Homo sapiens: one gene and its partners. The protein of the gene in region 1 interacts with the protein of each later gene in a biochemical or structural test. Each region holds a gene or a part of one and is shown in the gene's direction. Other genes may lie near its edges.

Region 1 (3,500 bases):
AAAATTCCAAGTATTTGTAAAACTAGTGGGAAGTAAGAGGGAAGCTCGAGTTTTGATTGAAAAGTGGCATAAAACTAAGGGCATTTATTGTACTCAGATCTGAAGCAAGTTCTGTGTTGCTGAGGTAAAAGCATTTGTGTTAATATGGTTTTAAAAACCATGAGTTCTTCTCCCTCCATTGCAGGATTGCTTATATTGAATTTAAGACAGAAGCTGATGCAGAGAAAACCTTTGAAGAAAAGCAGGGAACAGAGATCGATGGGCGATCTATTTCCCTGTACTATACTGGAGAGAAAGGTCAAAATCAAGACTATAGAGGTGGAAAGAATAGCACTTGGAGTGGTAAGAAATTAGGCTTGTTACAAGGTTTCAGAATTGGTGGAGGGAACTCCTTTGTGTCTTTGTATTTCATAAGTTTATAAATACTTTTTAATCAAAGTTACTCAAATGTAGGTGAAGATCAAGGACATGATACCCCAAGTCATACTCTTATTTGGAATAGTAATTTCCAATCTTGAATGAGAGCTCTAAAATCATTTTGCATTGGAATACAGTAGGCAAATCAAGCTTCCTTTGTAGGCATGTTTTATACTTTAAATGACTTGACCATGTGCGTTTTGAACTCAGATGATTCTAGGAAAACAGACCAGTCATCAGCCTATGTAAGAACAACCAGCAGGACATTGCAACACGTACTAGGTACTTAATATGTTGAGTAACAGAAATGGATTTAGCTTACGTCATGAGTATTTGTATATTAACTCAAGCACTGAAATTCTTAGGAATAAGATATTACTGTTGTGACCGAAGCTGGGAACCACTGTTTCAGAGTCTTAGGAATGTGGCATCTCTATTTGCAGGTGAATCAAAAACTCTGGTTTTAAGCAACCTCTCCTACAGTGCAACAGAAGAAACTCTTCAGGAAGTATTTGAGAAAGCAACTTTTATCAAAGTACCCCAGAACCAAAATGGCAAATCTAAAGGGTAAGATAATACCTTTGTATCATCAGTTATAGGCTATATATGTCTTAGAGGTCTAAAGGAACGTAAGGTCATGTGATCCTGTCAGAAAAGCCAAATAATTTTAGCTACGTAAATGAGTGTAAAATAAAGATCATCATTTAGGTACCAACTTGAGAGAAGGGGCTTGGCAGCATCATGTGACAGTGAAGGAGCATGTGCCTGGTAACTTACTCTAAGCATTAACTGTTCATCCTCAGGTATGCATTTATAGAGTTTGCTTCATTCGAAGACGCTAAAGAAGCTTTAAATTCCTGTAATAAAAGGGAAATTGAGGGCAGAGCAATCAGGCTGGAGTTGCAAGGACCCAGGGGATCACCTAATGCCAGAAGCCGTAAGTTCACCTGGTTAGGGTGCTGTGGTTGGGGGTAGCACTCTCGGTGCTTTGTTTATTTTTTGCACAAATTCTGTGTTTCCTGTTGCTACTGAGTGAACAATAACTGGATATGATGACTGATTACCTGAGAAATAATTGATGAAATCTCAAGAAAATTCCTCTAGATAGTCAAGTTCTGATCCAGCTGTGTCAACTCAGAGTAGCAAGTTTGCCCATGATTTCCTGCCCCATCCACTGGGCCCCACCTGCTTGGGTTGCTTCTCCCACTTTCCATAGAAGATCTGGGGCAGGATATCAACTATGCAATGGCAATTAAAAAATGTAAACCCAGAATAGCCTTTACTTTAATTAAGGACTAGTTGGCTTAGTTGCTTTTAACTGCTTTTTCACTATAACAAGTATTCTTGGCTAGTAGTCATACTAGGCATTGTGCAAATTCAGTGTTACGAACTGTGACTTCACATAAAGTCACATTTTTTTTTCCTTCCCAGAGCCATCCAAAACTCTGTTTGTCAAAGGCCTGTCTGAGGATACCACTGAAGAGACATTAAAGGAGTCATTTGACGGCTCCGTTCGGGCAAGGATAGTTACTGACCGGGAAACTGGGTCCTCCAAAGGGTAAGGGAAGGAAGCGTGAGTGCTGCTTCCACTTGAAGGGGTTTTTGTTCTGTGCAGACCTTGAGTCTAATGTGTCTTCTCATTGAGCTCCTTTCTGTCTATCAGTGGCAGTTTATGGATTCGCACGAGAAGAAGAGAGAATTCACAGAACTAGCATTATTTTACCTTCTGTCTTTACAGAGGTATATTTAGCTGTATTGTGAGACATTCTGGGGTTCAAGCTGTCACACCAGTTAGTTTTCCATAGAGAGCTACTCTGTCACTGGTATCTTTTCCCAAATAAACAAGGCTACTTTCTGTGGGATGGCTCCCCAGCATGTACAGTTAACTTGGGACATGTGTAGTAGGTGCTTTTTATAATGGGCAATTTCATTTGGTGTTCTAGGTTTGGTTTTGTAGACTTCAACAGTGAGGAGGATGCCAAAGCTGCCAAGGAGGCCATGGAAGACGGTGAAATTGATGGAAATAAAGTTACCTTGGACTGGGCCAAACCTAAGGGTGAAGGTGGCTTCGGGGGTCGTGGTGGAGGCAGAGGCGGCTTTGGAGGACGAGGTGGTGGTAGAGGAGGCCGAGGAGGATTTGGTGGCAGAGGCCGGGGAGGCTTTGGAGGTAAGGCACGCAGAGATAATGACACCACATAGCATGTGCTCTTCAGACCCTGTGCCCTGTCACGGTTCCTAATCACTGGGGAGGAGGAGCTTTGTACCCATTCTTTTAACAGTGTCTTGCCTTCCTCCTGTAGGGCGAGGAGGCTTCCGAGGAGGCAGAGGAGGAGGAGGTGACCACAAGCCACAAGGAAAGAAGACGAAGTTTGAATAGCTTCTGTCCCTCTGCTTTCCCTTTTCCATTTGAAAGAAAGGACTCTGGGGTTTTTACTGTTACCTGATCAATGACAGAGCCTTCTGAGGACATTCCAAGACAGTATACAGTCCTGTGGTCTCCTTGGAAATCCGTCTAGTTAACATTTCAAGGGCAATACCGTGTTGGTTTTGACTGGATATTCATATAAACTTTTTAAAGAGTTGAGTGATAGAGCTAACCCTTATCTGTAAGTTTTGAATTTATATTGTTTCATCCCATGTACAAAACCATTTTTTCCTACAAATAGTTTGGGTTTTGTTGTTGTTTCTTTTTTTTGTTTTGTTTTTGTTTTTTTTTTTTTTGCGTTCGTGGGGTTGTAAAAGAAAAGAAAGCAGAATGTTTTATCATGGTTTTTGCTTCAGCGGCTTTAGGACAAATTAAAAGTCAACTCTGGTGCCAGACGTGTTACTTCCTAAAGAGTGTTTCCCCTGGAATGTCACTGGAGAGCATGGCAAAGCCAGCTCTGCCACTTGCTTCACCCATCCCAATGGAAATGGCTTAGTGCGTGTTTCCAGTATCCCAGCCCTAACTAACTTGGTTGAAATGCTGGTGAGGGGACCTGCTCCTGCAGCCCTGGTGCTGACTTGAAGGCTGCTGCAGCTTCTCCTACTTTTAGCAGGTCTGAGGATTATGTCCTGAAGACCACTCTGGAAAGAGGTGCAGG
Region 2 (3,500 bases), on another chromosome or scaffold:
TATTTTCTTACAGAGCTGAAAAAGGAGAGAAGGAAGGATTTGATAATTTGTCATTTGCTTTTTATCTAAACATGCTTTTTGAAGAGAATCTGCCACCATAAAGTTCTGACATTGGTGTAATTATTCTTTGTGAATATTGTCTGGAAGATGTGGTGTTGGTAACTATGCTTGCTATCTCAAGTAATACATTGTTAACCAGTGATTGATTTATGTAACTATGAAAAAAACTTTAAAAAAAGTAGAAATCAATGTTTAATTATGCCCAGACATGTCATTATTGAACTTTGTATTAAGAGATTGTTTAAGCGTGATTTTAAGAGGGCCTAACCCATCTTACAGATTAACTGTACAAGTTCATATATTAAAATCAAACGTCTCTCATTTTGCCTGCCCTCATCCCCTAAGATATAAAAGATTCCCCCCCGTCCCCCCACTTTGGAGCTCATTCTTCGCAATATTTAAAATTGTAGCTCTTTGCATGTAATTTAGAACATTCTGACCCATACTCAACTGCTGGGAGACTCTGTTATTTATATTTAAAATGTTGACAGTGAGTTAGGAATTTGGAGCAGAAACCATATCTAAGTCTAAGTGAAAAGACTTCCTAAGTATTGGTAGAACTAACTGTAGTGGGGCTGAGTCATTATTACAGTACTGTACAGGCTGCGTAGCTATCTGTAGAATTGATAATGGTAATACCAGGTTAAAGTGTTAGCGATTCTTCTGCTGTTTCAGAGGTCTTGAAGTTTTTGCCTGTCTGCTATGGAGATAGGGAGTTCTCCCCCATTTGACCCCCTTAGCAAAGCACAATACTTGGCTCCATCAGTCTTTAGTCTAAGAAGTGATATATAGGATCATGGTTTGACATCATCTTGTGCTGATTCTGGTTGGCTTAATGGAATCAAATTGGATGAAGGTAATTAAATATGAATTGTTTCTGATGCTAATAGATAGTTGTACTTCTGTCTGTTGGGTATGGGTTGGGATGGGCGGTAGCATAGCTGATTGCGGTGGGGGAATTTCAGATAGCTGATGATGTGGCTATCTGAAAATTGCCACTACATTTTTAAAACTGAAAAGTGATGGTACCGCCAAATGAAATCTGCAGCATCCTCAGACTCAATCAGGAAATACTTAAGCATTATGCTCCAGGGTGGTTTTCTTCCCTTACATTGCAACTGGACTCCTTGAGGCACCTTTTTAGAATTAGTGAGCCGCTAGGATTTTTATACTATGCTTTGACATAAAAGAAAGTTGCTTGTCAATATGTGTTTTTTTAGTTTACCAGCATATCAGATCTCACAAACAAATTTTAGGCTCGGATTGGATGTTTCTAGTAAAAACAAGAAAATCCAGGCATCACTAAAAGAATCAGAAATACGTTGTGGCTTGAAAGGTGCAAACTAAATAATATAGCTAGCAGTAACGGTCACCAACTCCTGCTTTTCTTTGGTTCAGTAGATAGAGTAAAATGGAAAATAGGAAACCAAGGTCAGTCCCCAAATCTCATTTTAACCAATAGCAGCAAAAAAAAAAAAAAAAAAAAGGAATTGAGTCTGACTTTTTCCCCTTGCTGTCAGCATAAAGATGGGGAATTGAGAGAGTTGGAAAGACATTCATTAGTTTGTTCAGATTATTAAATAACATGTCTTAAAGTTTATATTCCAAAATTGGGCTGTGAGGTTTTTTTGTTTTGCTTGTTTTCAGTGCATGTGTGGGGTGGGGAGGTGCAAAAAAATGTTTGCCTTCTAATATACAGCTTTGTTGTATATTAATTATATAGTAACAGTTGTCCCTGCTGCTAATGGTATGGAAAATGATTCTGTTGTGCTTTCTGAATACATATCATTTTAGAAGTTTCAGATTATACTAAAACCATGTTATTTCATATTAGTTGGACATGAATGCATATTTATATGACACATCATTATCAACTTTTGCCTTTTGCCATCTTTTTAGTGCAAAGTAAAACTGATATTCTTCAAATCCAAAGTCGTTTCCTCAGAAGTGTGTTTTGTGAGGGATTGCATCTTTCCCATGTGAAACTGTGTCGAACTCCAGTAAACTGTGTTTGCTTGGGAAAATGAATTCAAATGTAATTAGTTTGAATGAAGCTGTGGAAATGTTTGAAATGAGTATTTTGACATTGGACCTGGAGGTTTAAAAAAAAAAACCCTATTGAAAGAATAGTAAAATATATTGGATGTGGAGGTGAGAGTCAGTTGAGTGAATTTTCTGTGTTGTATGGTTTAGATTATCTGACTATCCCTTAATTATTTTGAAACCATTAACTTTGGATAATAAGGGCATTTAGGCAAACAGTTGACACATGGATTTCTTAAGGTAAAAAGTTTAGAGACTTCCAAACTAGTCCTTAAGAGGCGAATGGGTATTGTGTTTAAAGGAAGCTTTCAGATTGTGTTTAAACTTCGAGTAGTAATATTTGGAACTGTCTTTTCTCCCTATTTCCATGCCTCATACATCTCAAGTTTGAGCAGCAGCTTTCCATCCCCATGGCTCCAGGCCAATAGCTGCAGTAGAAAATCTAAAATAGAGGCCAGGGTTGGAATAATTAGCATTTTGCCAACCCCCACCCTCCCTGCCACCTGCCTATCTAGATGTGGACAGTATGTGCTGTGTTGATAGCATAGGGCCTGGGAAGGGTGGAGAGGGATGTAAATGAGGGCAGGGTGGACAAAGTTTGATTGGGGGTTGCGGGGAAGCTTGTAGAGGAATGTCTGTTAGATATTGATGGTATTTTGGTGGCGTTATGAGAAATGGCTGATAGTTTGCTGAAATGATTTAATAGTAAATAGATATTGTTGAACATTTTCTGTGTGTATAGGAAAGATCCTAGATATTTTTCACACTGGGAGAGAAGTGATGTTACTGGTATCTCATGCATATCTCTGGAGTATATAGATCGTAATATCAACTTTGGCTATCTGTATCGAAGTTTGTATTAACTGTCTTTATGTGTGTCATTTATGTCTCTTAACGTTTAGTAAGAAAGAAATTCCAAGGAAGGTAGGCAACTTTTAATTTTAACTTCTTTCCTTTACTTTTTTTTTGGGCGGGGTGGGGGGCAGACAGGGTTTCTGTTTGTTGCCCGGGCTGGAGCGCAGTAGTGTGATTGCAGCTCACTGCAACCTCTGCCTCCTGGGCTCAAGCGATCCTCCTACCTCACCCTCCCAAGTAGCTGGAACTACAGGTGCATGTCACCACGCCGGGCTAATTTTTGCATTTTTTGTAGAGACGAGGTTTCTCGCCATGTTGCCCAGGCTGGTCTTGAACCCCTGGGCTCAAGCAGCCTGCCCACCTCAGCCTCTCAAAGTGCTGGGCATGAGCCACTGTGCCTGACCCTTAATTTCTTTTTGGTAGGTATTCATTTTTCATTTGTTGTCTTAAGCTTCTAGTTTCACTCACTTACCTGTCTGCTAAATTTTTCTGAAATGTGTAATAAATGTTTTAATTTACCATCTCCCTTCTACCCTTCCCAT
Region 3 (3,500 bases), on another chromosome or scaffold:
GCAGGGCTTCTGCTCACCTCTCTCCTGCCCCTTCCCCACTGCCCTTCTGCCCGGGGCCACCAGAGTCTCCTTTTCTGGCCCCCGCCCCCTCCGGCTCCTGGGCTGCAGGCTCCCGAGGCCCCGGAAACATGGCTCGGCTTGCGGCAGCCGGAGCGGAGCAGGTGCCACACGAGGCCTGGAAATGGCAAGCGGGGTGTGGAGTTGCTCCTGCGTGGAGGACGAGGGGCGGGGGGTGTGTCTGGGTCAGGTGTGCGCCGAGCGTTTGAGCCTGCAGCTTGTCAGCTCCAAGTTACTACTGACGCTGGACACCCGGCTCTCACACGCTTGTATCTCTCTCTCCCGATACAAAAGGATTTTATCCGATTCTCATTCCTGTCCCTGTCGTGTGACCCCCGCGAGGGCGCGGGCTCTTCTCTCTGTGACTAGATTTCCCATCTGGAAAGTGCGGGGTTGACCGTGTAGTTTGCTCCTCTCGGGGGGCCTGTGGTGGCCATGGGGCAGGCGGCCTGGGAGAGCTGCCGTCACACAGCCACTGGGTGAGCCACACTCACGGTGGTAGAGCCACAGTGCCTGGTGCCACATCACGTCCTCTGGATTTTAAGTAAAACCACACACCTCCCGGCAGGCATCTGCCTGCGACCCTGTGTGTGCCTGGGGAGAGTGGTAGCACGGAGGAAATTCGTGCACACTCAAGGTCATCAGCAAGGTCATCCGCAGTCAGGTGGAACGTGGAGGCCTCTCTCTGGGATCGTCTCCAGCGGATAAAGGACTGTGCACAGCTTCGGAAGCTTTTATTTAAAAATATAACTATTAATTATTGCATTATAAGTAATCACTAATGGTATCAGCAATTATAATATTTATTAAAGTATAATTAGAAATATTAAGTAGTACACACGTTCTGGAAAAACACAAATTGCACATGGCAGCAGAGTGAATTTTGGCCGAGGGACACGTGTGCACATGTGTGTAAGCGGCCCCCAGGCCCACAGAATTCGCTGACAAAGTCACCTCCCCAGAGAAGCCACCACGGGCCTCCTTCGTGGTCGTGAATTTTATTAAGATGGATCAAGTCACGTACCGTCCACGTGTGGCAGGGCTTTGGGGAATGTGAGGTGATGACTGCGTCCTCATGCCCTGACAGACAGGAGGTGACTGTGTCTGTCCTGTCCCTAGGACACGGACAGGCCCGAAGCTCTAGTCCCCATCGTGGTCCAGTTTGGCCTCTGAATAAAAACGTCTTCAAAACCTGTTGCCCCAAAAACTAAGAACAGAGAGAGTTTCCCATCCCATGTGCTCACAGGGGCGTATCTGCTTGCGTTGACTCGCTGGGCTGGCCGGACTCCTAGAGTTGGTGCGTGTGCTTCTGTGCAAAAAGTGCAGTCCTCTTGCCCATCACTGTGATATCTGCACCAGCAAGGAAAGCCTCTTTTCTTTTCTTTCTTTTTTTTTTTTTGAGACGGAACGTCACTGTTGTCTGCCTGGGCTTGAGTGCAGTGGCGCGATCTCAACTCACTGCAACCTCCGCCTCCCGGGTTCCAGCATTTCTCCTGCCTCAGCCTCCCGAGCAGCTGAGATTACAGGCACCCACCCCCTGCGCCTGGCTAATTTTTGTATTTTTAGTAGAGAGGGGTTTTTGCCATGTTGGCCAGGCTGGTCTCGAACTCCTGACCTCAGGTGATCCACCCACCTCGGCCTCCCAAAGTGCTGGGATTACAGGTGTGAGCCATCACGCCCAGCCGGAAAGCCTCTTTTTAAGGTGACCACCTATAGCGCTTCCCGAAAATAACAGGTCTTGTTTTTGCAGTAGGCTGCAAGCGTCTCTTAGCAACAGGAGTGGCGTCCTGTGGGCTCTGGGGATGGCTGAGGGTCGCGTGGCAGCCATGCCTTCTGTGTGCACCTTTAGGTTCCACGGGGCTATTCTGCTCTCACTGTTTGTCTGAAAACGCACCCTTGGCATCCTTGTTTGGAGAGTTTCTGCTTCTCGTTGGTCATGCTGAAACTAGGGGCAAGGTTGTATCCGTTGGCGCGCAGCGGCTACATGTAGGGTCATGAGTCTTTCACCGTGGACAAATTCCTTGAAAAAAAAAAAAGGAGTCCGGTTAAGCATTCATTCCGGGTCAAGTGTCTGGTTCTGTGAATAAACTCTAAGATTTAAGAAACCTTAATGAAAGAAAACCTTGATGATTCAGAGCAAGGATGTGGTCACACCTGTGGCTGGATCTGTTTCAGCCGCCCCAGTGCATGGTGAGAGTGGGGAGCAGGGATTGTTTGTTCAGAGGTCTCATCTGGTATGTTTCTGAGGTGTTTGCCGGCTGAATGGTAGACGTGTCGTTTGTGTGTATGAGGTTCTGTGTCTGTGTGTGGCTCGGTTTGAGTGTACGCATGTCCAGCACATGCCCTGCCCGTCTCTCACCTGTGTCTTCCCGCCCCAGGTCCTACGTCCAGTGCCAGGGGATCCCGCAGGGCTCCATCCTCTCCACGCTGCTCTGCAGCCTGTGCTACGGCGACATGGAGAACAAGCTGTTTGCGGGGATTCGGCGGGACGGGTGAGGCCTCCTCTTCCCCAGGGGGGCTTGGGTGGGGGTTGATTTGCTTTTGATGCATTCAGTGTTAATATTCCTGGTGCTCTGGAGACCATGACTGCTCTGTCTTGAGGAACCAGACAAGGTTGCAGCCCCTTCTTGGTATGAAGCCGCACGGGAGGGGTTGCACAGCCTGAGGACTGCGGGCTCCACGCAGGCTCTGTCCAGCGGCCATGTCCAGAGGCCTCAGGGCTCAGCAGGCGGGAGGGCCGCTGCCCTGCATGATGAGCATGTGAATTCAACACCGAGGAAGCACACCAGCTTCTGTCACGTCACCCAGGTTCCGTTAGGGTCCTTGGGGAGATGGGGCTGGTGCAGCCTGAGGCCCCACATCTCCCAGCAGGCCCTCGACAGGTGGCCTGGACTGGGCGCCTCTTCAGCCCATTGCCCATCCCACTTGCATGGGGTCTACACCCAAGGACGCACACACCTAAATATCGTGCCAACCTAATGTGGTTCAACTCAGCTGGCTTTTATTGACAGCAGTTACTTTTTTTTTTTTAATACTTTAAGTTCTAGGGTACATGTGCACGACGTGCAGGTTAGTTACATATGTATACATGTGCCATGTTGGTGTGCTGCACCCATTAACTCATCATTTACATTAGGTATATCTCCTAATGCTATCCCTCCCCACTCCCCCCATCCCATGACAGGCCCTGGTGTGTGATGTTCCCCACCCTGTGTCCAAGTGTTCTCATTGTTCAGTTCCCACCTGTGAGTGAGAACATGTGGTGTTTGGTTTTCTTTCCTTGCAATAGTTTGCTCAGAGTGATGGTTTCCAGCTTCGTCCATGTCCCTACAAAGGACATGAACTCATCCTTTTTTATGACTGCATAGTATTCCGTGGTGTATATGTGCCACATTTTCTTAATCCAGTCTATCATCGATGGACATTTGGGTTGGTTGCAAGTC
Region 4 (3,500 bases), on another chromosome or scaffold:
TTCTTATAATTGAGTTAGCCAGGTGATTCTTTAGGTCTCAGTTGATTTGACTGGGGCAGGATGGTCCAGGATGACCTCATTCACAATCTAGGACCACAGCTGGGGCAGCAGGGATAGCTGAGGTCTCATCCTCCAGCCTGTGAAGTTCATGCTGCTTCCCATGGTGGTCCTCCTGGGGTTCCTAGCAGCAGAGAGAGGGAAACCTCAATGTATAGGCACTTTTCAACCCTCTACCTGTGTCATATTTGCTAATAACCCTATTGGCCAAAGCAAATCACATGGCCAAGCCTAGCTTCAAAGCATGGAAAAACCGACTCCACTCTTGATGGGAAAAGCATTGAATATGTAGGCATATTATAGAGAGACATGCCTACAGGGGTGGCAGGCATTTGCAGCCATCTTTCCTTGCCATGTGTCGTCATCCCCTTCTTGCATGAGTCTTCCTAACCTACCCCTGTAGCCGTGGCTCGTTAATGCAGGGAAAAGTGATGGGTAGAATGTCTAAGAGACTTACTAATCCCAAGCACAATGAAATTTGAAGAATTACTGGTTGGTGGAGGAATGATCATTTTGTTTGTCTAGATAAGCACTTAAAGGAATGCTCAGTTTGTAAAATGGAATACACCCATGGGTCCTAGATTTTTGTGTCCTGGATCACTAAGAACCTAATGAAAACTATGAACTGCCTCCAAAAATGCATGTATTAATATGCAGTCTTGTGAAAAGTTTTAGGGTAGTTGTAGATCTTAAGAACAGTTCTATGAAATGAATGTGTTTTTATAAGAACTTGTACGCACCACTTTTTATTAGAGAAAGCTGAGGTGGTGGATTTAAGGTTCACTCTTATGGCTAATGGGTCTTCCTTTTTGTCAGTAAGATCAGAAACACGAAAAAGGTCGAGCTTGATTTATCCCACGTTTCTCCATGTCTTCTCTAGACTAAAATTGAAGCATTGGTGTGGATAAAATTTGCAGTGCCATGATCCTGTGAACTGTCAGGCTAGCTCCTTTCCTGGAAGTGCTTCCTGAGTAATCCCATGCACTCTCACCCCATGAGAGCTACAATTCAGATCTCACAGTTGGTTATTTTTAAGTAAGATGGTTTGAGATTTTGTGTTATTTAACCATCAGCCAAAGCTAAAGTTGTATAAGCTAGCCTGCCCTTAGGTCCCATAAAGACATCCAACTAATGCAGGTCTTCCCAGGTGGACATGTGGGTGTCACTCAATGTCTGATGTCCTTTCTGCTTTCTGGAGGTAGCAGCTAGGCAGTGAGGACATATACTTATTTTTGCTAATGAGACGTAGAATCCCAGATGAAACTTGAAAAACGTCATTCATGCTTAATGGTCAGAAACTGTACGAGATTTTAAAACTGAAATAATTCCCCAAAGAATTTCAAAGCATGTCAGTAACTCCATAGGGAGTCCGACTAGGAAACTTGGCAAAAGAATTAATTACCTTACTGTATTTGTTCAGCCTTTGCTTTCATTGAGTATTTTTCACATGCCAGGTATTGTGGTCTTAATTAGTTTATTCCTTTGGACAAAGAGTAGGCAATATAGCAGAATCAACACTTGGTAAATTTTCTCTTTGAAAAGAAAAAACAGGAGTGGGGAAGACTAAATATTTAACTCCTTTGAAAATGTAGAAGCAACTGAGGCTGAGGGCTGCAGTGTGATGACTCGGTGACTTAACCTGATCTCCTGATTCAGATTCAAGGAGGTCTGCCCTCACAACCCCTGGTTTCATAAAGCACTGCCACAAAGGCACTTTGGAATCTTGCTACAGTTATTATAAAACAGAGGGAAAAAATTGAAGTAGAATGTAAGTGAAGTAAATAAATCTTAAACGTACAGTCTTTTGGATGTTTGTGTATGTAAAACTCTCACCCAGATTTACACAGGACGATGATATCCAGTATAGTTAGTAACCACTGCCCATAGGTAGCTATTTAAATTAAGTAAAATTCAAAATTTAGTTGCTGGCCAGACTCGGTGGCTCACGCCTATAAATCCCAATGCTTCGGGAGGCCAAGGCAGGTTGATTGCTTGAGCTCAGGAGTTCAAGACCAGCCTGGGCAACATGGCAAAGCCCCATAGCTACCAAAAAAAAAAAAAAAAAAAAAATATATATATATATATATATATGCATGCTCCAGGTGTAGTGGTACATGCCTATGGTTCCAGCTACTCAGGAGGTGGAGGTGGGAGGATCCACTTGAGCCTGTGAGGCAGAGGTTGCAGTGAGCTGAGATCATGCCACTGCACTCTAGCCTGGGCAACAGAGCAAGGCCCTGTACAAAAAAATAAAATAATAAAATAAAATTTAGTTCCCTAATCACACTAGGCACATTTCAGGTGCTCAGTGGCCTCATGTGGCTAGTGGCTACCGTATTATAGAGTGCAGGAATAGAATATTTCCATCATTGCAGAAGGTCCTATTGGACAGGGCTGGTAGAGGATATTGTGAACATCCTGCAGGGCTCTCTTGTGTTCTTCTGTTCAGTGTCTCCTCTGAAGATTATATCTTTATATGTATCCCCATAGTTAGTAGTGCCTGTTCTTGATCTTCAAATAACAAGCATTCTTTCTTTTTTTATCTGTCGCCCAGGCTGGAGTGCGGTGGCATGATCTCGGCTCACTGCAACCTCCACCTCCCGGGTTCAAGCAGTTCTCCCGCCTCGGCCTCCTGAGTAGTTGGGATTACAGGCACGCACCACCACACCTGGCTAATTTTTGTATTTTTAGTAGAAACGGGGTTTCACCCTGTTGGTCAGGCTGGTCTCAAAACTCCTGACCTCGTGATCTGCCCGCCTTGGCCCCCAAACTGCTGGGATTACAGGCGTGAGCCACCACGCCTGGCCATAACAAGCATTCTATATTGTATACTCTTGGTTCAGGGAAAAGCACAGATCGAGGGAGCTTATTCCTGGAATGCTAATCCTAGGGCTCATTCTCTGCCTTGTGTACTCCTCCAGCATGAAGAAGTCCATTCAAGTGTCCTCAAGAGTCTAGTTTATTGCTTCTTATCCAGGTCAAGCTTGTCCCCCAGGGGACATTGGGCAAAATCTGGAACCATTTTTGGTTGTTAAAACTGGAGGGGGGCTCTAGTGGTAGGTAGAGGACAGGGATTCTACTTGAAGAGTATTTCATTGACCTTGTGTAGGATTCAGGTGCTTGTTAAGATTAGCCAAAGGTCCTGAATTTGAAGTTTATGAAGATAGTTATTATGTTAGGCAAGGGAGATTTAGAAGCAAATTTTTACATTAAAAAAATGGAGCTTAACAATCTAATAAATGATTGAAAGATTTGAATCAGCATTTCTCCAAAGAAGATTTAGAATGGCCGGTAGACACATAAAAAGAAGTTCCACTTCATCACTCATTATGGAAATAAAAATCAAAACCACATGGAGATACCACTTTACACCCACCAGCAAAGCTATAATCAAAAAGTTGAACAATGACAGGTGTTGATGAGAATGTGGAGAAACTTGAACC
Region 5 (3,500 bases), on another chromosome or scaffold:
TCACTGCAGCCTCTGCCTCCAGGGCTCAAGCAATCCTCCCACCTCAGCCTCCTGAGTAGCTGGGACTACAGGTCCATGCCACCATGCCCAGCTAATTTTTTTTTTTAAGACAGTCTCTCGATGTCACCCAGGCTACAGTGCAGTGGCACGATCTTTGCTCACTGCAACCTCCAACTCCCAGTTTCAGGAATTTGGCCGGCATGGGTGAGGGTGGGAAGAAGGCTGCTGAGTGTGGGCGGGGGCTGGGCAGACTCCCTTCACTCCCCAGGGCAGCGGCCCAACTAGGTTGGATATTTTTTTTTTTTTTTGAGACGGAGTCTCGCTCTGTCGCCCAGGCTGGACTGCAGTGGTGCGATCTCGGCTCACTGCAAGCTCCCCCTCCCAGGTTCACACCATTCTCCTGCCTCAGCCTCCCGAGTAGCTGGGACTACAGGCACCCGCCACCACGCCCGGCTAATTTTTGTATTTTTAGTAGAGATGGGGTTTCACCATGTTAGCCAGGATGGTCTCCGTCTCCTGACCTCGTGATCCACCCGCCTCGGCCTCCCAAAGTGCTGGGATTCCAGGCATGAGCCACCGCGCCTGGCCGGATTTTTTAAAAATAATAATTTACCTTCTCATCGTTTCGAGTGCACAGTTCCAGGGCCTTGAGCACGTTCACTCACCGTGCCACCGCCACCACCATCATCTCCAGAACCTCCTCATCTTCCCAAACTGAAGCTCTGTCCCCATTCAACAAGGGCTCCAGATTTCCTCTCCCCAGTCCGGGGCACCCACCCTTCTACTTTCTGTTCTTTTCTTGTTTTTTTTTTTTTTTTTTTTTTGAGACGGAGTCTTGCTCTGTTCCCAAGGCTGGAATGCAGTGGCGCCATTTCAGCTCACTGCAACCTCTGCCTCCTGGGTTCAAACGATTCTCCTGCCTCAGTCCCCTGAGTAGCTGGGATTACAGGCGCCTGCCACCACGCCCGGCTAATTTTTGTATTTTTGGTAGAGACAGGGTTTCGCCATGTTGGCCAGGCTGGTCTTGAACTCCTGACCTCAGGTCATCCTCCCAACTTGGCCTCCCAAATGGCTGGGATTACAGGCATGAGCCACCGTGCCTGGCCTCAACTTTCTGTCTCTATGAATCTTATGACTCCAGGGACCTTGTAGAAGTGAAACCATGCGGTATTCATTTTTTTTTTTTTTTTTTTTTGAGGCAGAGTCTCATTCTGTCGCCCAGGCTGGAGTGCAGTGGCACCTTCTCAGCTCACTGCAAGCTCCGCCTCCCAGGCTCATGCCATTCTCCTGCCTCAGCCTCCCGAGTAGCTGGGACTACAGGTGCACGCTGCCATGCCCGGCTAAGTTTTCTGTATTTTTAGTAGAGATGGGGTTTCACCACGTTAGCCAGGACGGTCTCGATCTCCTGACCTTGTGATCCGCCTGCCTCGGCCTCCCGAAGTGCTGGGATTACAGGTGTGAGCCACCATGCCCGGCTGGTATTCATTCTTTTGTGACTGGCCAGTTTCACTCAGTCTAACGTCTCCAGGTTCACAGATGCTGTGGCGAGTGCTGGGATTTCCCTGCATGTGAAGACAGGATCATACCCTGTGTGGATGAACCACATTGCGTGTGCCCGTTTGTCTGCAGGCGGACACTGGGCTGCTCCCACCTCTGGGCCATTGTGAATCGTGCTGTGTGAGCACGAGGGTGCAGATGTCTCTCTGAGACCCTGCTTCAGGTTGTTTGGGTCTGTACCCAGGACTGGAGTTGCTGGGTCCCATGGCGATTCTGTGCTTACCTGGTTGAAGAACTGCTAGACAGGTTTCCCCTACCTGGTTTTGCACTCAAGCCACAGGCCAGCAGGTCACACGTGCCCGCTTCCTGCCTGCCTGCCCTGTGGCCGGGTGTGGAGGGCTGGTGTGGGCGATGAGCTGGCACTCAGGGCTGGGAGGAGCTGGAGGCCTTTCCCTCTGTCCTGCGCCTGGTGCCCAGGCCCTGGCCAGGCTCCCCCCAACTTCAGCCTAGACTGGGCCCCCTCTCCAAATGCACCGGAGCTGTGGTGTGGGCCAAGGTTACTGCTTTGTGGACTCCTTGGGCCGCTGCACCGGCCGTGACCGCAGCCAGCTTCCCCGACGCACAGATGCTGTGAGCTAGACCTCAGCTCTGGACATATCTCAGGTTAGGTGTGGCACTGCCCCTGCCCCCAGGCCCTGTGCTCCTAGGCCACTGCCGTTTTAGACTCAGAGGCATTTGCCAAGCCTTGCTCTGTGGCAGTACCTGGCAGCCAGCCGCATCCCCCAACTGCTTCTCCCGTCACCCGTCAGGTGGCTGCATGGCCCCATTTTGCAAATGAAAGAATGAGGAAACAGGAAGGGACTTGGTGGGGTCCAAGGTGGCTGAGGCGGCACGTGGCCGTGTGGCCAGGAGGTATGTGCTCATGTGCCCGGGGGAGGCAGAGGCCCACAAGGGCTGAACTCCAGTGGTGCCCTACCCTGGACTCCGGCGGGCAAGGCGCCTTCCCCCGCTCCGTACACATGTACTGAGTGCCTTGCCCTGTGCAGTCACTGGGGCTCAGGGAGACCGGACCAGACCAGCCCTTCACTCTCAGCATCTGCTGTTCCTTGGTGGGGAGACAAAGACAGACAGATGGTGATGGCACTTGGGGACAAGGAGGGCCGAGGGTAGAGTAAGAATTGTGAGTGAGGGCCGGGCATGGTGGCTCACGCCTGTAATCCCAGCACTTTGGGAGGCTGAGGCGGGAGGATCACGAGGTCAGGAGATCAGGACCATCCTGGCCAACATGGTGAAACCCCATCTCTACTAAAAATACAAAAATTAGTTGGGTGTGGTGGCGCACGCCTGAAATCCCAGCTACTCGGGAGGTTGAGGTGGGAGAATCGCTCGAACCTGGTAGGCAGAGGTTGCAGAGAGCCGAGATCATGCCACTGCACTCCAGCCTGGGCGACAGAGTGATATTCTGTCTCAAGGGAAAAAAAAGGACATAGAATCTTGGATGCCCCGTAAACGCGTTTTCAGGAAGGAGTACTGGGCACCTATGGGCTGGGAGGTGGGTCAGGGAGGAGCAAACTGACCCCAAGTCACTGTCCAGGTGGTGGTGGTGACAGCTTAGCAGGTGAATGAGAGGCCAGAGGGGGTCGTGGCACCTGGAGATGCATTTGGAGAAGTTCTGCTAAGACCGGGGCAGAGACCTGCAGTGGGAGCTCGGCCTGGCATGCAGGGGAAGGCTTTGGAAGTGACTGTTTTCCTCATGGAGGACGAGGCCAGGCCATGGGCCGGCGGGGAGGGAAGCCGAAACTCGGGCCACCATGGAGCGCTTCTGCAGGGCGTGTTCCATTCAGAAGCTCAGGCCTCGGTGGGTACAGAGGTGGGCTCCGTACTGAATGATGGAGGGAGGGGTGAGGGGCAGAGGGCATTGCACTGATGGACCTGGGATCCCACCCGGGCAAGGGGGCAGGGCAGACATGGGGTGAGGAGGGAGGGACAGACATGGCTGGGTC
Region 6 (3,500 bases), on another chromosome or scaffold:
ATTTCACATGTACCCCATAAATTTGTATAAATAATAATATAAAAGGTCTGTCCAATGTGGCCACAGTCTGGGACCAAGTAAAAAGTGTTAAGGGATGAAGAATCTTTACCCTCCAAGTTAGAGGAAGAATTTTTTCCCAGTCTTCAATGTAAAGCACTGAAAAATGTGGCTTTTTCAACATTTTTGCTGAAATGGTACAAAAGGCCGGAAGAGAAAGCGCTACTGCAGTTAGGAAAGGTCACCAAACCCCAGCAGCTGCTGCGAGTTGGTCTCTCGGACAGGGCCTCATCATTGGTTGAAAAAAGTTGATCTGTTTTTCAGTCCTACGCCAGTTCAGTCTAGAATAGTCCAAAAATAGAATGGGCTCCCTATGTTCTTTTTTATTTATTTCCCAAAGTGGATATTTTAAAATCATAAAGGTAACTAATTTTTAGGTAAAACTTTTGGGTAATACAAAAAAGGAAATGAAGTATAAAGAAAGTGAAACTGAAAAAAAAAAAAAAAAGCCCCAAGCTCTATACAAAGCACTTCAAAAAGTTCTTGGAGGCCAGGCTCGGAGGCTCACACCTGAAATCCCAGCACTTTGGGAGGCCGAGGCAGGCAGATCACGAGGTCAGGAGATTGAGACCATCTTGGCTAACACGGTGAAATCCCGTCTCTACTAAAAATACAAAAACTTAGCTGGGCGTGGTGGCAGGCGCCTGTAGTCGCAGATACTCAGGAGGCTGAGGCAGGAGAATGGCCCGAACCTGGGAGGCGGAGCTTGCAGTGAGCCGAGATGGCGCCACTGCACTCCAGCCTGGGCGAAAGAGCAAAATTCCATTTCCAAAAAAAAAAAAAAAAAAGGTATTGGACAAATGAGATTAAAATTAAAGATATAAACTTTATTTCTCAACATAAGCTCCATCAAGGTCAAGACACTTTTATAAGTGATGACACCAGCCATTTAGTCCATCCCCTAGCAATTGAGGGTCCTGGGAATTTAACCATGCCAATGCAGTCTTTTTTACATTTTGTTTTTTTATGCTGTTTTCTGAGACAGGGTCTTGCTCTTTCACCAAGGCTGGAGTACAGTGGTGCAATTCTAGCTCACTGCAGCCACAACCTCCCAGGCTCAAGCGCTCCTTCCACCTCAGCCTCCCGAGTAGCTGAGACTTCAGGCACACACCACCATGCCTGGCTAATTTTTGTATTTTTTGGCAACGACAGGATTTCATCATGTTGCCCAGGTTGGTCTTGAACTCCTGAACTCAACCGATCTACCAGCCTCAGTCTCCCAAAGTGCTAGGATAACAGACATAAGTCACCACGCCTGGCCTTTTTTTTTACACTATTAACTGAAGAAAGATGGGTACCCTTTACAGATTTTTTTTTTTTCGAGATGGAGTCTCGCTTCATCGCCCAGGCTGGAGTACAGTGGCACGATCTCGGCTCACTGCAACCTTCGCCTCCCAGGTTCAAGTGATTGTCCTGCCTCAGCCTCCCCAGGAGCTGGGATTACAGGCGTTGGCCACCATGCTGGGCTAATTTTTGTATTTTTAGTAGAGACGGGGTTTCACCATGTTGGCCAGGCTGGTCTCGAACTCCTGACCTCAAGTGATTCGCCCGCCTTGGTCTCTGAAAGTGCTGGGATTACAGGCGTGAGCCACCATGCCCGGCCTCCTTTACAGATTTTTTAAGATTAGAAAACAAAAAGAAGTTAGAAGGAGCCGAATTTGGACTGTAAGATGATGCATAATCACTTCCCATTGAAACTCTCACAAAATTGCCCTTGTTTGATGAGAGAAATGTAGTTGAAGCATTGTCCTGGGGGAGAAGGACTCTCTGGTGAAGTTTTCTCAGATGTTTTTCTGCTGAAGCTTTGGCTAACTTTCTCAAAACACTCTCATAATGAGCAGATGTTATTGTTCTTTGGCCCTCTAGAAAGTCAACAAGCAAAATACCTTGAGCATCTCCCAGAAAACTTTACCATGGCCTTTGTTCTTGACTGGTCTGCTTTTGCTATGACAGGACCACTTCAACCTCTCGGTAGCCATTGCTTTGATTATGCTTTGTCTTCAGGATCATACTGGTAAAGCCATGTTTCATCTCCTGTTACAGTTCTTCAAAGAACTGCCTCAGGATCTTGATCTCACTTGTTTAAAATTTCCATTGAAAGCTCTGCTCTTGTCTGCAACTGATCTGGGTGCAATGGCATTGGTACCCATTGAGTGGAAAGTTTGCCCAGCTTTAATTTTTCAGTCAGATTTGTGTGAGCTGCACCAATTGAGGTATCTGTGGTGTTAGCTATTGTTTGTGCTGTTAATTATTGCTTCTCTTCAATTAGGGCATGAACAAGATGATTTTTTTCATTGTAAATTGATGTAGATGGTCTGCTGCTGCAGGCGCCATCTTCAACATCATCTTGTCCCTCCTTAACAAGTTATCCATTTGTAAACTGCTAATTTTGTTGGGGATTTGTCCCCGTAAACTTTTCTGAAAGCACCAGTGATTTCACCATTCTTCCATCCAAGCTTCACCATAAATGTTGATGTTTGTTCTTGCTTCAATTTTAGCAGAATTCATGTTGCTCTGAGAGGGGCTGTTTTCAAGTTGATGTCGTATCCTTCTTAGTGCCTCAAACAAAATCCCACTCAGACATGTTATAACAAGTTAGTATGAGTTTATTTTGGTGCAAAACAATTTGAAATCCATGCATAGCTTTTTCATACTATGTGTTTTCCATGAACTTTTCTAAGTCACCTTGTATAAGAGTATTATATGATCTCATTTATATGAAATTTTAGAACAGGCAAAACTGTACTGATAGAAGACAAATAAGTGGTTATCTGGTGTTGGAATGGGGTAGAGATTCTGCGAAGGGGGATGAGTGAAGTCTTTTGGGGTGACATTTAGGATGATAAGTAATGTTTTATATCTTGATTGTTGTGGTTACATGGGTATATACATTTGTCAAAAATCAAACTATTTTTTTTTTTTCGAGATGGAGTCTTGCTCTGTCACCAGGCTGGAGTGCAGTGGTGCGATCTTGGCTCACTGCAGCCTCCGCCTCCTGGGGTCAAGCGATTCTCCTTCCTCACCCTCACTAGTAGCTGGGACTACAGGTGTGTACCACCACTCCCAGCTAATTTTTGTATTTTTAGTAGAGACAGGATTTCACCATGTTGGCCAGGATGGTCTCGATCTCTCAACCTCGTGATCCACCTGCCTCGGCCTCCCAAAGTGCTGGGATAACAGGTGTGAGCCACAGTGCCCGGCCCAAACTTAATACGGGTACACTTTATTGTTTCTAAACTACACCTCAATAAATGTTGATTAAGTGAAAATTAACAATGAGATACAATTCCATACCCATCATATTGGCAAAAATTTTGTAATCTGGTAGTGTCAAGTGTTGGTGAGTATATGGGGAAAGGGGAACTATTCTATTTCATTGATGGAAGTAAATATTGGTACAATCACTGTTGAGCCATTCAGCAGAATAATTTGGCAGTCTCTAG
Region 7 (3,500 bases), on another chromosome or scaffold:
TAGTGACAATAAAGAGAAGTAGGGAAAAGATGTTGTAAAGGGCAGCGCTTGATGACTGACAATAAAAAATACACCTCAGCCCAACAATGTATTACAGTAACTTAGTAAACCTAAAAAGTGTTTGAGAGGGGAAGACAGTTTTGTTGGAAACATGAGTACAGGTTTAGAGATGACAGGTTTGAGGTGACAAACCCCGAGTGAAAATTTCTAGCTGTATTGAGAGATGTGGAACTAAGTCACACAGAGAAGTAAAAATGGAATCTGGAAACGAAAGATCCATGAGAAAGGAAGGGAGTAGGATATAGAAGAGAAAGCTAACAAACTTTCATCTTTTCTGCAACTTCAGGCAGTGTAATGGGGAGCCGTTTTTCCTTGTCTAAGTGAGTCTTAATGTTCTCTGGCTTTAAGGATGTGCTGCATAAGTGGCCAGTCCACAAAGTATCCTTGAACCTGGCCCATGCCCATGGACCAACTCTTCTGTTATAATCTTTTGAAGCTTTATTATAATTTTAGTTATTTTGAAAAACATGGCATTATTTTAATCTAGATAGATTATACCCACTTCTGCCATGGGCACAACTTACTGTTGGAGATCAAAACAACTGAAACAAAATCTGCCTTATATCAGTGTTACAGAAGAGGCTTCCTAGTGTTTTTCTATCCTCGGGACTCAACTCTGTTGAGTTTTTTTTTCTTTTCTTTTCTTTTTTTTTTTTTTTTTTTGAGAAAGAGTCTTGCTCTGTTGCCCAGGCTGTAGTGCAGTGGTGTGATCTTGGCTTGCTGCAACCTCTGCCTCCCAGGTTCAAGCCATTCTCCTGCCTCAGCCTCCCGAATAGCTGGGATTACAGGCATGACGGCCACCACGTCCAGCTAATTTTTGTATTTTTAGTAGAGACGAGGTTTCACCATGTTGGCCAGGCTGGTCTCAAACTCCTGACCTCAAGTTAATCTGCCCGCCTTGGCCTCCCAAAGTGCTGGGATTACAGGAGTGAGCCACCGTGCCTGGCCCAAGTTTATTTAAATTTAACATCAAGTAACCTAGCTTGATAGCCTCCCATTTTTCTTATTTTCCTTTTTTTTTTTTTTTTTATTTGAGACGGAGTCTCTGTCGCCTAGGCAGGAGTGCAGTGGCGCAATCTTGGCTCACTGCAACCTCCATCTCCTGGGTTCAAGCAGTTCTCCAGCCTCAGCCTCCCAAACTGGGATTACAGGTGCCTGCCACCCAACACAGCTAATTTTTTGTATTTTTAGTAGAGACAAGGTCTTGCTGTGTTGGCCAGGCTGGTCTTGAACTCCTGACCTCAGGTGATCCACCCGCCTCAGCCTCCCAAAGTGCTGGGATTACAGGTGTGAGCCACCATGCCCGGCTTTTTGTTGTCATTTTAATTGTTTATTGCTCCACTGATATTTTCTTTGCAGACCAAAATGTTACAATTTTTTTTTTTTTTTTTGAGGCGGAGTCTCATTCTGTCGCCTGGGCTGGAGTGCAGTGGTGCCATCTCTGCTCACTGCAAGCTCCGCCTCCTGGGTTCACGCCATTTTCCTGCCTCAGCCTCCCGAGTAGCTGGGACTACAGGCGCCCGCCACCACGCCTGGCTAATTTTTTGTATTTTTAGTAGAGACAGGTTTTCACCGTATTAGCCAGGATGGTCTCGATCTCCTGACCTTGTGATCCGCCCACCTTGGTCTCTCAAAATGCTGGGATTACAGGTGTGAGCCACCGTGCCTGGCTGGCTGCCATATGTCTTATGAGACAGCCAAGCTAGCATGTCAGTATCGAGTAGACCTAATCCATTGTTAACTCTCCTCAGAAATAAATTCTTTTTTTTTTTTTTTTTTGAGATTGGGTCTCACTATGTTGCACCGGCTGTTCTTGAACTCCTGAGCGCAAGCAATCCTCCAACCTCAGCCTCCCACATAGCTGGGATTACAGGTGAATGCCTCTGCACCCAGATCCTCATAATCATTAGGAAGAAAGAGCTGAGGGGGAGGGGTGGAGGAGGATGCTTAGGAGACCTTTTATGATAATAAGGGAGGAAACATTGAGAAGAGGAAGAGTAAGTTATAGAAGCTATAGCTATTGCGTGAGCTCCATTAGAAATTTGATAGCTAAAGGGAATTAGGGCTGTTTAAAATGTCACTCTTACATCCGTCATTTGACATGATATGTGACCTTTTTAAATAGAAATGTTTTCCCATGTTTTGACAGGGACTTATGTAGAATAAGTATTTAGACTACAGTACATAATATCTATAGTTGCCATGGCAACTCAGCATAGCATGCTGACACTCCAAAGTTGTACAAATAGAATCCTAATCTGAGAATGTTTAAGTAGTCAGATAATGTCTGTCAACAATAAACTAAAGCAAAATTCTCAAGTAAATATAGCCTGTTAAAATAACATTTACAGATGGCTGAACAACTATATAGATCGTTGACTTTTTTTAAAGAAAAAGAATGCTAATTAATTAATAATAGAAAAGATTACATTTCATCAGCCTAAGAGCTGGAACCAGGGATATAGAGAGGATGTTAGACTATTACTTAAATCTAAATATTATCTACTCTCATTTGTTTTCTCAATTTAATGAAGTAAAACCCCATTATATGTTAGGTCTCTCTCTAATAGAAAAGTCATAAAGTTGAGAGCTACAGTTAGGTTACAAAATGAATTAGCCCATGCTTGTTCAAAGTACTGCAGTAGTTTTAAAATTCTGGGCCGGGTATGGTGGCTCATGCTTGTAATTCCAGCACTTTGGGAGGCTGAGGCCGGAGGATTGCTTGAACCCAGGAGTTCCAGACAAGACTGGGGAATATGGCGAGATCCCATTTCAATTAAAAAATAAAAACAGTTCTGAGAAGACAATTTAACATAAGTACCAGTTTTAAAAGCACATGCCCATGCGGGCATGGTGGCTCACGCCTGTAATCCCAGCACTTTGGGAGGCTGAGGTGGATGGATCACAAGGTCAGGAGTTCAAGAACAGCCTGGCCAAGATGGTGCAACCCTGTCTCTACTAAAAATACAAAAATTAGCCAGGCGTGGGGGTGGGCGCCTGTAATCCCAGCTACTTGGGAGGCTGAGGCAGAGAATTGCTTGAACCTGGGAAGTGGAGGTTGCAGTGAGCTGAGATCGTGCCACTGCACTCCAGCCTGGGCAACAGAGTAAGATTCTGTCTCAAAAAAAAACCAAAAACCAAAAAACCACAAAACAAAAAAATCACATACCCTTTGACAGAAAATTTGTCTTACAGAACATTTCACATATATGCAAAGATAAATGTACAAATAATTTATACCAAAGCATAATTAAAATGGTAAAAGTTAGAAACATACTGCATCACTATAAAATGAGAAGTGTTAAATTATGCTCCTAAGCAGTTATTAAGAAGAGCTAACCTGATGGTATCCCAATCCAGTAACAGAAGATGGCTATGATGGCACTGGGAGGGCAAGGTAGAAAGGGCCAAATAAGCTGGAGAACAGAGCATGCAATCCA

Evidence for each region.
Region 2: the proteins of NCL (region 1) and TOP1 form a complex in vitro, tested with the Homo sapiens proteins (2 studies listed by BioGRID and IntAct).
Region 3: the proteins of NCL (region 1) and TERT form a complex in vitro, tested with the Homo sapiens proteins (one study listed by BioGRID).
Region 4: of the proteins of NCL (region 1) and CSNK2A2, one has a biochemical effect on the other in vitro, tested with the Homo sapiens proteins (one study listed by BioGRID).
Region 5: the proteins of NCL (region 1) and ADAP1 form a complex in vitro, tested with the Homo sapiens proteins (2 studies listed by BioGRID).
Region 6: the proteins of NCL (region 1) and ADAP2 form a complex in vitro, tested with the Homo sapiens proteins (one study listed by BioGRID).
Region 7: the proteins of NCL (region 1) and RAD51 form a complex in vitro, tested with the Homo sapiens proteins (one study listed by BioGRID).

The regions. Positions count from the first base shown.
Region 1 is NC_000002.12:231,454,485-231,457,984, reverse strand, and holds part of NCL (nucleolin), read left to right. Parts: intron 1-184; coding exon 185-342; intron 343-860; coding exon 861-984; intron 985-1,220; coding exon 1,221-1,354; intron 1,355-1,461; exon of another isoform or gene 1,462-1,541; intron 1,542-1,848; coding exon 1,849-1,975; intron 1,976-2,048; exon of another isoform or gene 2,049-2,185; intron 2,186-2,360; coding exon 2,361-2,584; intron 2,585-2,717; coding exon 2,718-2,794; 3' UTR 2,795-3,500. UniProt on the Homo sapiens protein: Nucleolin is the major nucleolar protein of growing eukaryotic cells. It is found associated with intranucleolar chromatin and pre-ribosomal particles. It induces chromatin decondensation by binding to histone H1.
Region 2 is NC_000020.11:41,031,822-41,035,321, forward strand, and holds part of TOP1 (DNA topoisomerase 1), read left to right. Parts: intron 1-3,500. UniProt on the Homo sapiens protein: Releases the supercoiling and torsional tension of DNA introduced during the DNA replication and transcription by transiently cleaving and rejoining one strand of the DNA duplex.
Region 3 is NC_000005.10:1,267,569-1,271,068, reverse strand, and holds part of TERT (telomerase reverse transcriptase), read left to right. Parts: intron 1-2,435; coding exon 2,436-2,549; intron 2,550-3,500. UniProt on the Homo sapiens protein: Telomerase is a ribonucleoprotein enzyme essential for the replication of chromosome termini in most eukaryotes. Active in progenitor and cancer cells. Inactive, or very low activity, in normal somatic cells.
Region 4 is NC_000016.10:58,170,607-58,174,106, reverse strand, and holds part of CSNK2A2 (casein kinase II subunit alpha'), read left to right. Parts: intron 1-2,820; exon of another isoform or gene 2,821-3,500.
Region 5 is NC_000007.14:948,181-951,680, reverse strand, and holds part of ADAP1 (arf-GAP with dual PH domain-containing protein 1), read left to right. Parts: intron 1-3,500. UniProt on the Homo sapiens protein: GTPase-activating protein for the ADP ribosylation factor family. Binds phosphatidylinositol 3,4,5-trisphosphate (PtdInsP3) and inositol 1,3,4,5-tetrakisphosphate (InsP4). Regulates the incorporation of CD63 and CD9 into multivesicular bodies.
Region 6 is NC_000017.11:30,938,945-30,942,444, forward strand, and holds part of ADAP2 (arf-GAP with dual PH domain-containing protein 2), read left to right. Parts: intron 1-3,500. UniProt on the Homo sapiens protein: GTPase-activating protein for the ADP ribosylation factor family. Binds phosphatidylinositol 3,4,5-trisphosphate (PtdInsP3) and inositol 1,3,4,5-tetrakisphosphate (InsP4). Possesses a stoichiometry of two binding sites for InsP4 with identical affinity.
Region 7 is NC_000015.10:40,712,174-40,715,673, forward strand, and holds part of RAD51 (DNA repair protein RAD51 homolog 1), read left to right. Parts: intron 1-3,500.